Linked DNA regions of Homo sapiens: region 1 is linked to region 2. The links come from fine-mapping of genetic effects on plasma protein levels. A gene starts in region 2. The other region holds a variant in brackets. All regions are shown on one strand. Distances are between the middles of the regions. Region 1 overlaps KREMEN1 (kringle containing transmembrane protein 1). Region 2 holds the start of KREMEN1 (kringle containing transmembrane protein 1).

Region 1 (5,000 bases), 14 kb before region 2:
ACATAGCAAACTGCAGGACAGGTGGGGTTCCTGAGACTCGGATGACTTGGTTTGTAATACAAAAGAATGTAGCAGAATGTGTAATAAAAAGAATCCATGGCCGGGCACAGTGGCTCAAGCCTGTAATCCCAGCACTTTGGGAGGCCGAGGCGAGCGGATCACCTGAGGTCAGGAGTTCGAGACCAGCCTGGCCAACATGGAGAAACGCCGTCTCTACTAAAAATACAAAATTAGCCGGGGGTGGTAGTGCATGCCTGTAATCCCAGCTACTTGGGAAGCTGAGGCAGGAGAATCGCTTGAACCCAGGAGGCGGAGGTTGTGGTGAGCCGAGATCGTGCCTTTGCACTCCAGCTGGGGCAACAAGAGTGAAACTCTGTCTCAATAAATAAATAAATAAAATGCACACACATGACAGTCCTCATGGAGACGAGATGGCATCTGAGAGTGGAAATGGGAAAGTGCAGGCTTCTTTGCTTGGGTCTGTTCCTCTCAGACCCAATCTTGTTCTCAGTTACACTGGTGAAACTGAGGCAGTGTATCAGATTCTGTGATTGTTTTTTGACCAGACTTGCCCAGTACATATCAATTACAGAGAAAAGCAAGGGAAACCAACTCGAATGCTCTGCATTTAAAGTCATCTAGCGCATCTTGATTTCATCAGAGTACTAGGGTGTATGTTAGGTAAATAGGACCCTACCTCCCTTATTTTTTTTCTTCAAAACAGTGATTTTATTTCCTTTGAATATATACCTAGAACTGAGATTGCTAGAATATGGTCATTCTATTTTGAATCATTTGAGGAACCTCCACACTGTTTTCTATCGTGATCATGTTAAGTTTTTTAACTTTTATTTTGGGTTCAGGGGTACATGTGAAGGTTTGTTACACAGGTAAACTCATGTCACAGGGGTGTGTTGTACAGATTATTTCATCACCCAGGTACCCAACAGTTATCTTCCTGCTGATCTCCCTCCTCCCACCCTCCACCCTCAAGTAGACCCCAGTGTCTGCTGTTTCCTTCTTTGTGTTCATAAGGTCTATCATGTAGCTCCCAGCCTCCCTTATTTTCTACTGCTACGAAACTGATGTAAGCTTTGGCTAAATAAGCAAGGAGCGGCTTAAACCAGTAAGAAACACACACACACAGAGCCAACTGTTTATTTACGTATTCAGTGAAAAGAGAATGAGTGAAAGCAAGAGATCTAATGTCTAGGAAATTATTCATTAATTAGTTCAGCAAATATTTATTCAATACTATGTGCCTGGCACTGTTCACAGCACTGGGGCTACAGAGATGAACAAATATCCTGTATTCATGGAGCTTACATGTTTATAATAAACTGATCAAAATGAACATCAGATAGTGATAAGTGCTATTAGAAGGAATGAAGCAGAGTAAAGGGAGTACGATGGAATGGTGAGGGTTCTCTCCTAGGGTGGGTCAGGGAAAGCCTAGTGAGCAGAGATGTGGATGAAGGGAGGAAGCAAACCCAGTGAACGAGGCGGCAGGTGTGTAACTGGCAGAGGGTCCAGCAAATGCAAAGCCCCTGCAAATGGCAATATGCTTGGCAGATTTGGGGAGCTACAAAGCTGCTCCTCTAATCTGACTGGAGCAGGAGAATGAGCAGGGAAGGGCAGGCAAGGTCAGGACGTGTAAGGTCTTGAGGGTTAGATAAATGAGATTTTGGCTTTTGTTCTAAGTGTAAGGGGAAGCCACTGGAGGGTTTAGAGCAGGGGAATGACATAATGTGACTTATCTTTATTTATTCATTTTTGTGACTTATCTTTTAATAGAATTGTCTAGCTGTTGGGTGGAGGAAAAACAACTGACAGGCAGGACCTAGGCAGGGAGAAAAGTAGGTAGTTACTGTAGAAGGATGGGCGAGAAACAAGGATGGCCTGGACTAGGCTGGCAGCTGTGGGGTGGTGAGAAGTGGACCGATTCCAGATATATTTTGAAGGTAGTGGCAAAAGTATTTGCTGGGGGTTTGGATACAGGGTCTGAGAGACAGATGGGTCACACAGCACACCAAAGGGGCCTGAGCAACCAGCTGAGTAGTGATACCATTTACTGTAATAGGGAGGGCTCAGGAAGGTCAGAGTGTTTTGGGGTAGAATTAAGAGTTTGGTTTTGGATAGGTTAAACTTGACATCTTCAGAAAACTGAGTGGAGATGTAGAGTACGCAAATGGCTACATGAGTCTGGAGTTGAGGAAAAAGGCTGAGGCTAAAGCTAGAAATATGGTCCCCAGCACTTACGTGTAGAGAGAATAGGATACTGTGTGTATCAGCCCCAACATCTGGGGCTGAGCCCTGGGGCCCTCCAACATACCACACTTGGCAATGATGACTGAGAAAGTACAGCCTGTGGGGTAGGAGAAAAGCTAGGAAAACTTTTTCAGTAATTTTTTTTTCTTTATCACACAACTTCTAGCAACAATGTGGTAGAGTATGGAAAGCGTATGTTAGGGGCTCTAGAGCCAGACCTCAGCTTTTCAGTTTACAAGCTACAAGCACTTGCCTAACCTCCTTGAGCCTCAGTTTCTTGACTTGCAAAATGAGAGATTTGATTATCTACAGCTCAGGGCAGTTGGAAGAATTGGAACGTGTGCAAGTAAAGTACTCGGTACATAGTAGGTATTCAAAAATTATTATTGTATAATCATAAAGGTATAAAAATAATCAAACTTTATATAAGCTTAGAAATATTATAAGCATCATGATAACTGAGGTTATTCTGAGGCCAGGTGCGGTGGCCCACGCCTGTAATCCCAGCACTTTGGGAGGCTGAGATGGGCAGATCACTTGATATCAAGAGTTCGAGACCAGCCTGGGCAACATGGCGAAACCCCATCTCTACCAAAAATACAAAAAATTAGCCAAGCGTGGTGGTGTGTGCTTGTGGTCACAGCTACTCAGGAGACTGAGGTAGGCGGATCGCTTGAGCCTGGGAGGCAGAGGTTGCAGTGAGCCAAGATCGCACCAAGGCACTATACCCTGGGTGACAGAGCGGGAACCCCATCTCAAAATATGTGTGTGCGTGTGTGTGTGTGTGTGTGTGTGT[A/GTGTGTA]TGCACGCGTGCACGCGTGCGCACGTTATTCTGGTCCATAAAATAATTAGCTATAAAAGGTAAGATAACATGAGTATGTGGGCACATCATCCTACTACAATTCTGTTTAAAGTTAGGCTACCATCAAGATGGAACATATATATGGTTTGAATCCTGTGTTGAATCCTAGCGTTCAATGGATAAGCGGTAAGGGAAAAAGATACAGAGGAGCAAATAGGTTTTTCTTAATCAAAATTTCAGCTATAAATATGATGAAACACATCTTCATTTATTTATGCTACTAAAACCACATAATTCAATATTTATACTAATCATAAGTGAGGAAAACACAAGTTAATAGAGTCCCAGGAAAAATTCTGCCAGGTTGTATAATACCTGCTCTGCAGTTTTAAAGTTCATGTTTAAACTATAACAAGGTATTCTTTTAAAATAATTAAAACTTGGCTGGGCGTGGTGGCTCATGCCTGTAATCCCAGCACTTTGGGAGGCCAAGGTGTGCGGATCACCTGAGGTCGGGAGTTTGAGACCAGCCTGATCAATATGGAGAAACCCCATCTCTACTAAAAATACAAAATTAGCCGAGCATGTTGGTGCATTCCTGTAATCCCAGCTACTTGGGAGGTTGAGGCAGGAGAATCACTTAAACCCGGGAGGCGGAGGTTGCAGTGAGCCAAGATCGCACCATTGCACTCTGGCCTGGGCAACAAAGAGTAAAATTCCGTCAAAAAAAAAAAAACTTGACATGTATAAGATAGTGGTAGGAAAACAGTAGTTAATCTAAAAGACATCCTAATCTTTGGTAAGATTTAATAAAGCTGAAGAATATGCTCTCTATAAAACTCTATAACTAGGTAATTCTTAATTTGTCCAAAAACACACTATTGAGAAATACAACATTTTTCTCTATATTCTTGGTTTTCTGGTAGAATTACTAGTTAGATCTCTACATATGATGCTTATGAGAGTCATTGTTTTTTTTTAATCCACCAAAGTTAAGTCTCTGTTCTCTGTGGGACCGCTTAGCACTTCTACTGATCTTATGTTGGAAGAATCTGTCTGGTTTTAGCCTGGCTTGAAATCAACATGAATCAATTCACATTAAATTCAATTACAGCATCTTAAAGCAAGACAGCAGAGAACATATTCCAATGAGAATATCCTTCGTTCTTTAAAAAAGTCTATGAAACTTGGTAGGTAGATAGATTATAGAAATCTAAGGTTTAGGTATAAATGCTTTTTTTAATATTTAGAGGGTATGGCTCATGCCTGTAATCCCAGAACTTTGGGAGGCTAAGACAAGAGGATCACTTGAGCCCAGGAGTTCAAGACCAGCCTGGGCAACATAGGGAGACCTCCATCTCTACAAAATTAAAATTAAAATTAAAATTAAAAATTTGCTGGGTGTGGTGGTGTGTGCTTGTAATCCTAGTTATTTGGGAGGCTGAGGTGGAGCCCAGGAAGTCAAAGCTGCAGTGAGCCATGGTCATGCCACTGCACTCCAGCCTGGGCGATGGAGTGAGACCCTATCTCAAAAAAGATATATATAGAGAGAGGGCAACATGACAGTGCCGTCAAATATTCACATAGCACACCTATCGCCCTGTTGGGTTTCAAATACGGACTGGTGCCCGGTGGGAACTTGCACCACTTTGAAGCCCCTGGGCAGACTACCCTTTGCCCTCAGACACTCAAAAGCACTATGGGAAAGCTGATTTCAGTTATGTGAAACCCTGTAGTAAAGGGGCATGTGGCCCTGGGAAGGCAGGGGTTCCCAGCCTTTTCCAACCCAACACCACTGAGGCTGTGATAGGACACACTCCCATCTTCAAAAATGGCTCTCCAAGAGCAGTGATTTCTACAATTACATAGAGGAATGTCATCAGATCTAGAATAGAGAGAGGACAGTTTAGGGAAAAAACAACAACCCTGTACACAC
Region 2 (5,000 bases):
GCCCTACAGAGTTGAATAATTGCAACACAGATAGTATAAGGCCCATGAATCTCATATTATTTACTGTCTTCCTCTACAAAAAATGCTTGCCCACACCTGACCTAGATTATCAGTTGACATTTCCAGACTCAAAAATTCTAAACTAAGGATGGTATATTCCCCATCACCAAAAATCCCTAATCTGTATATTGTGAAGCTATTTAAAGCAATATATTTTATCTTACTCATTTATTGCTTTTGGTCTAACTATGCTAAACCATGAGTTTATCAATAATATCTGTATTGATATACAAGAAGTGCATCAACTTTCTGTTTATGAGTAGTGAGCCTAAAAGGAATGCTTTCTTGCTTTAAGATTTATAAAGGGACTCATTGCCTATCTCAAATACTTTTTATTTATTTGTTTATTTTGAAACAGAGTTTTGCTCTTATTGCCCAGGCTGGAGTGCAATGGTGTGATCTCAACTCACCGCTACCTCTGCCTCCTGGGTTCCAGCGATTCTCCTGCCTTAGCCTCCCAAGTAGCTGGGATTACAGGCACGTGCCACCATGCCCGGCTAATTTTTTGTATTTTTAGTAGAGATGGGGTTTCACCATGTTGGCCAGGCTGGCCTTGAACTCCTGACCTCAGGTGATCCGTCTGCCTTGACCTCCCAAAATGCTGGGATTACAGGTGTGAGCCACCGCGCCCGGCCTCAAAGATTTAAATGGTTTGTCTAGGGACTAAAGTATATTTTCACAAAAATATCAGAGGTCTTTGATAGCAGGTCGAAATGGTGTTTCTTAAAATACTCAGAGTATGCAAGTAACTGGTATGCACCCTTCACTCCTTCACTGCTTCAGCCCCCATGTCGCTTACAGGTAATTCTATTAGCATTAATGAAGTCCCCAAGAGAACCAAGAATTGGTAGACAGTATGAAGCTCTAGCTGTTAACTGAACTCATAGGTTTTAGGGCAAACACACTACTGGCTAGTGGGGCAAATTCCAGATGAGGAGGTAGAGGAGAATGAGCATCAGTCTATAAACTTATAAAAGGTATTCACAGCAAACATAACCTGAGTGGAGAAGCTCTGTTGATGTGCACCTAATAGACCCTAAAGGTAGTAAAATACTCAAGTGAGTAGACCATAAATTCCATAAATTCCAGATGGGACCTACTACAGAGAACCTCTCGACCACATGGCCCTGGTTGCACTCCTCCTTGAAGGAAAGTCTAGATTCCATTACCTTCTACTTTCCTTCTTATGAGTTGTGAAGGAAGGAAGAGAATCTTAGAGGAAGAATGAAAAGAAGGGAGATCATTTGGGGTTGGCTACACATTGTAATTAGAAGTAGGATTGATGGGGAATGAGCTAACTGTTTTTATAAAGTCAGCATTCAAAAATGCAAACCACCAGTAATTTAAATATTACAAAATTGTGCAGAATATAAATATTGAAATAATTTTTTCCATCCACAAAATTTTAGAGAAAATTACAGTATCAAAAAATATAAAATGGCAAGTTTGGCATATCCTCAGAGTAAAGTGTGTGTGTGTATGTGTGTGTGTGTATGTGTGTGTGTTTTATTGGGAAGGATTTTAAAAGCTAGTGAGTAGGATCTAGACAGGATGTGTTGGTGAAGACCATGGGGTATCTCCCTAAAATTGCTTCTGCAACTAGACAGGAAAAGTCAAAAAAGCAAAGCACTGAGTTATCAGGACGGTAAGGCACCAAGCTGGCAAGGCTCAGTGAGTTGGGAACTTGGGCCACTTATCACAAATTATTTCACAACGATTATTTGCCCCTACCCCAGACTCCTAAATAAAAGTACACCAAAATTTGGGGTGCAAACTTGATAAGAGATGCTGCATTTGACCTTAAAAAAGCAAAGATATCTGGGAAGAGACTAGCTTCCAACGAGCTTAAGGAGAGTTGGCTCACTTGATGCAAATCAGAGCTGCTGCTCTGCCCTTTCCAGAAGGGGAACCAGTCTATTTCCACCCATACCTCTCTCTTTGTAGGGGACATTAAACCCTGACCACACAGATAGCAAAGTGGAGCTAAGGGGTTACCAGGTTACAGTCATGTTGACATATCCTGGCTCTCGGAATGTCCCTCACTCCTCACAACAGTAGAAGTGATCATACTGTAGAAGTCCCATAAAAGACGGTGATCACTCAGAAACCACTTACTGAGCCTCAGGTTTACAACACTTGGAGACCCCAGTTCTACTAATTTAAAGCCAAGCTTAGCCTTTTACAGAAATGAATCAGACCGAAAGCTCTTAGCATTCCCAGGGTAAATGAGGTGTCTAGCACTCGATGAACTGTGAGGCCCTATAAAAGTATTATTAAAATATGTTTATTGACTCCCTCCTATATGCGGGTATGTTACCTACAGTATATCATTTAATCTTCACAACACTCTGCAAAGAAGTTATCCTGTCTTTACAGATGAGGAAACTGAGGCTCAGAGAGCTGAAGGCATGGCCCAAAGTCACCCAGTAAGTGACAACACCAAGTCCTAGCTTTTTCGCTAATCCAAGCCAATGAGTAAACAAAGCAACTCTGAGTTTTCTTACACCAGCAAAATCCCATCCTTTCCAACATCAGTCTGTGACTTTGGGTGGAGAACCCAGAGGCGGGTTTTCCTACTCCTGCAGACTGGTAATAAACTCTTCCCATCCCTTTCACAAATGGCCTATGCTCAACACCCAAACAGCCTGCAGAGAAATGCAACGCCCTCTTGCCTTCTCTTCCACTTAGAAAGGATTCGGCTACAAGGTTGCGTGTGGAAGTTAAGCAAAAGCCAAGCTTCATCCTGGTCCAGGGCCTCACCTCGGGAAGACCTGGCCTTGGCCTTGGCCTGGGTAGTGAGTGACCTGTCTAAGGTGTGGGCTGACCCAAAACACGGAGCTCGGCGTTGCACCCTCAGGAAGAGCACCCTAAACTCAGTTGGGGAGAAGTTTCCCATCACTGCTTCCTTTTTTCTCTCCCCCTTCTGCGCCATCACCTGAGTCATAGGGAAGTTCAAAGCGGCCCAGCGGAGAGAGAGGGCACGTCCCGTCCGTCTGGGTACAAGGTCGTCCCAGGACCCTAACCTGCCTCTAGCAGGGCGAACAAGTCCATCCCGTTCCTCGCGAGGCAGAAGTTATAATGTCCGCCAAGCGGGTGCAGCCGAGGACTCGGGAAAAGGGGCTGAGCGCCGGCTCCTCCCGCCTCCGCTCTGCTCTGCGCGGGGAGGCGCCGGGTTCCACCGGTGTAGGCGGGAGGAGAGGACTGGGGGACGCGGGGGCGTCGCAGTGAGGCTCAGGGAGGGGACCTTGGCCCAGGGGAGGGATGTCGCTGGAGGTCTCGGAGAGGGGCGTATAGCCTCTTGTAGCGGGGGAGTCGTCCCGGTGCAAGGTGCGTCGATGAAGGACTTGGGGCGGGATCCCAGGAGGTACTGGGGAGCAGGGGTCGTCCCGGCCCGGGAGGGGTCGCTGGGGACTTGGGGACGGGATCCCAGGAGGTACCGGGGAGCAGGGGGCCTCCTGGCCCGTGGGGAGTCGCTGGGGATTTTGGGACGGGATCCTAGGAGGTACCGGGGAGCAGAGGACGTCCCGGCCCGGGGGAAGTCGCTGGGGACTTGGGACGGGATCCCAGGAGGTACCGGGGAGAGGGGGCGTCCCGGCCTGGTTGGGGTCGCTGAGGGACTCGGGCAGCGGGTCCCAGATCCCGAGACAGAGAAGATGTCCCAGCCCGGGGGGCGTCGCAGAGGGTCTTGGAAGACTCAAGGCGGAGAGGGCCTCCTGGGCTGAGGGGCGTCGCTGAGGAGCACCGGGTCCTGCAGCCGGGGGACAGTACCGGGCCCGGGGGCGTCGATGACGGGCCTGGGGGTAGCCCGGGTCCCAGGAAGGGACCATCCCGGCCTGAGGGGCGTCGCCTAGGGGCGAGGGGAAGGGGCCCGGAAGGTCCTGAAGCGGGAGGGAGGGGGCTCTCAGGCCGGCCGGCCCTTGTCGCCCCTCGAGTGGGCTCCGCTCAGGGCGGGCGGCGGGGGGTCGCTCACACTCACCGGGTCCGGGGCCGAGGCCGGGGCTAGGCGCGGGCCGGGCCGCCAGCGTGAGCGCCGCGGCGGAGAGCAGGGCGAGGCGGGCGGCTGGCGGCGCCATGGGCCGTCAGTGCGGGGCCCCGGGGCGCGGCCCGGGGTAAAGGGGGCAGCGCGGGGAGCCGGGGGCGGCCATGGGAGCAGGACGCGGGGCCCGAGTGTAGCCCCGCCCCGGCCGCCCGGCCGCCCCGCCCCGGCCCGCCCAGCTCAGCGCCGCCACCGCCCCTGCAGCCTGGGGCCCGCCCGGATCCGCGGAGAGGCCCGGGGGGCGGAGCCCACTGCGCACGCACGCCCCGCCCCGGCCGCGCGCTGCTCCTGCCACTCACGCATCAGGCCCCGCCCATCTCTCGCCTCACCTGGGCCGGCCCAGCAGGGCCCTCTGTTTGTCCCATCCAAGGGTAGGATCAGCAGGTGAGGGGCGGGGCCTCGGCCCGGCCTCCAAGTCACCAAGCGGTTTGGCCGGGCTGAAATAGGCCGGGCTCCCAGTGACCCCTGCTCCACCCTCACTTAGGTCGTGACCCACGCGCGAGCTCAGCTACAGCGGTAATAATTACAACAGCAGTTTGCAAACTGTTTTCCCTTGCTTAGCTCATCGTAATGGTTAAAAAAAGAATGCTTTGGAGAGTTCACATCCCACTTGGTCACATGTAACACCTTGGACAGGTTTAAAGGAAAAATAGCTCTTACCTCAATTTCCTCATCTGTTAAATGGAGGTGATAATAGCTGCTACTCCTCAGAGCGCTTGCACTAAATAAGAATGCCTACAGCCGAGTGCGGTGGCTAACAACTCCTGTGATCCCAGCACTTTGGGAGGCCGAGACGGAAGAATCGCTTGAGCCCAGGATTCTGAGACCAACCTGGGCAACACAGCGAGACCCCATCTCTACAAGAAAAAAATAAATAACTCAGTGGTCCCAGCTACTCAGGAGA

Evidence for each region. PIP is the chance, under the fine-mapping model, that this variant and not a neighbour inherited with it causes the effect. Protein levels are from the aptamer-based SomaScan assay of Sun 2018.
Region 1: its variant is fine-mapped to the plasma level of the KREMEN1 protein (Sun 2018, PIP 0.95).

Annotation. Positions count from the first base shown.
Region 1 is chr22:29,086,371-29,091,370 of GRCh38, reverse strand. The region is part of intron 1 of KREMEN1 (kringle containing transmembrane protein 1); the gene reads right to left. Among named protein-coding and RNA genes, the nearest start is that of KREMEN1, 16 kb to the right of the region's middle. The variant A/GTGTGTA (reference allele first, on the strand shown) is at 3,065.
Region 2 is chr22:29,072,264-29,077,263 of GRCh38, reverse strand. KREMEN1 (kringle containing transmembrane protein 1) reads right to left here and starts at 4,229. Exons shown (of 9, transcript NM_001039570.3): 1 at 4,037-4,229. The coding sequence starts at 4,133. It also overlaps a transcript of C22orf31 not described here. RefSeq lists a silencer at 4,211-4,540.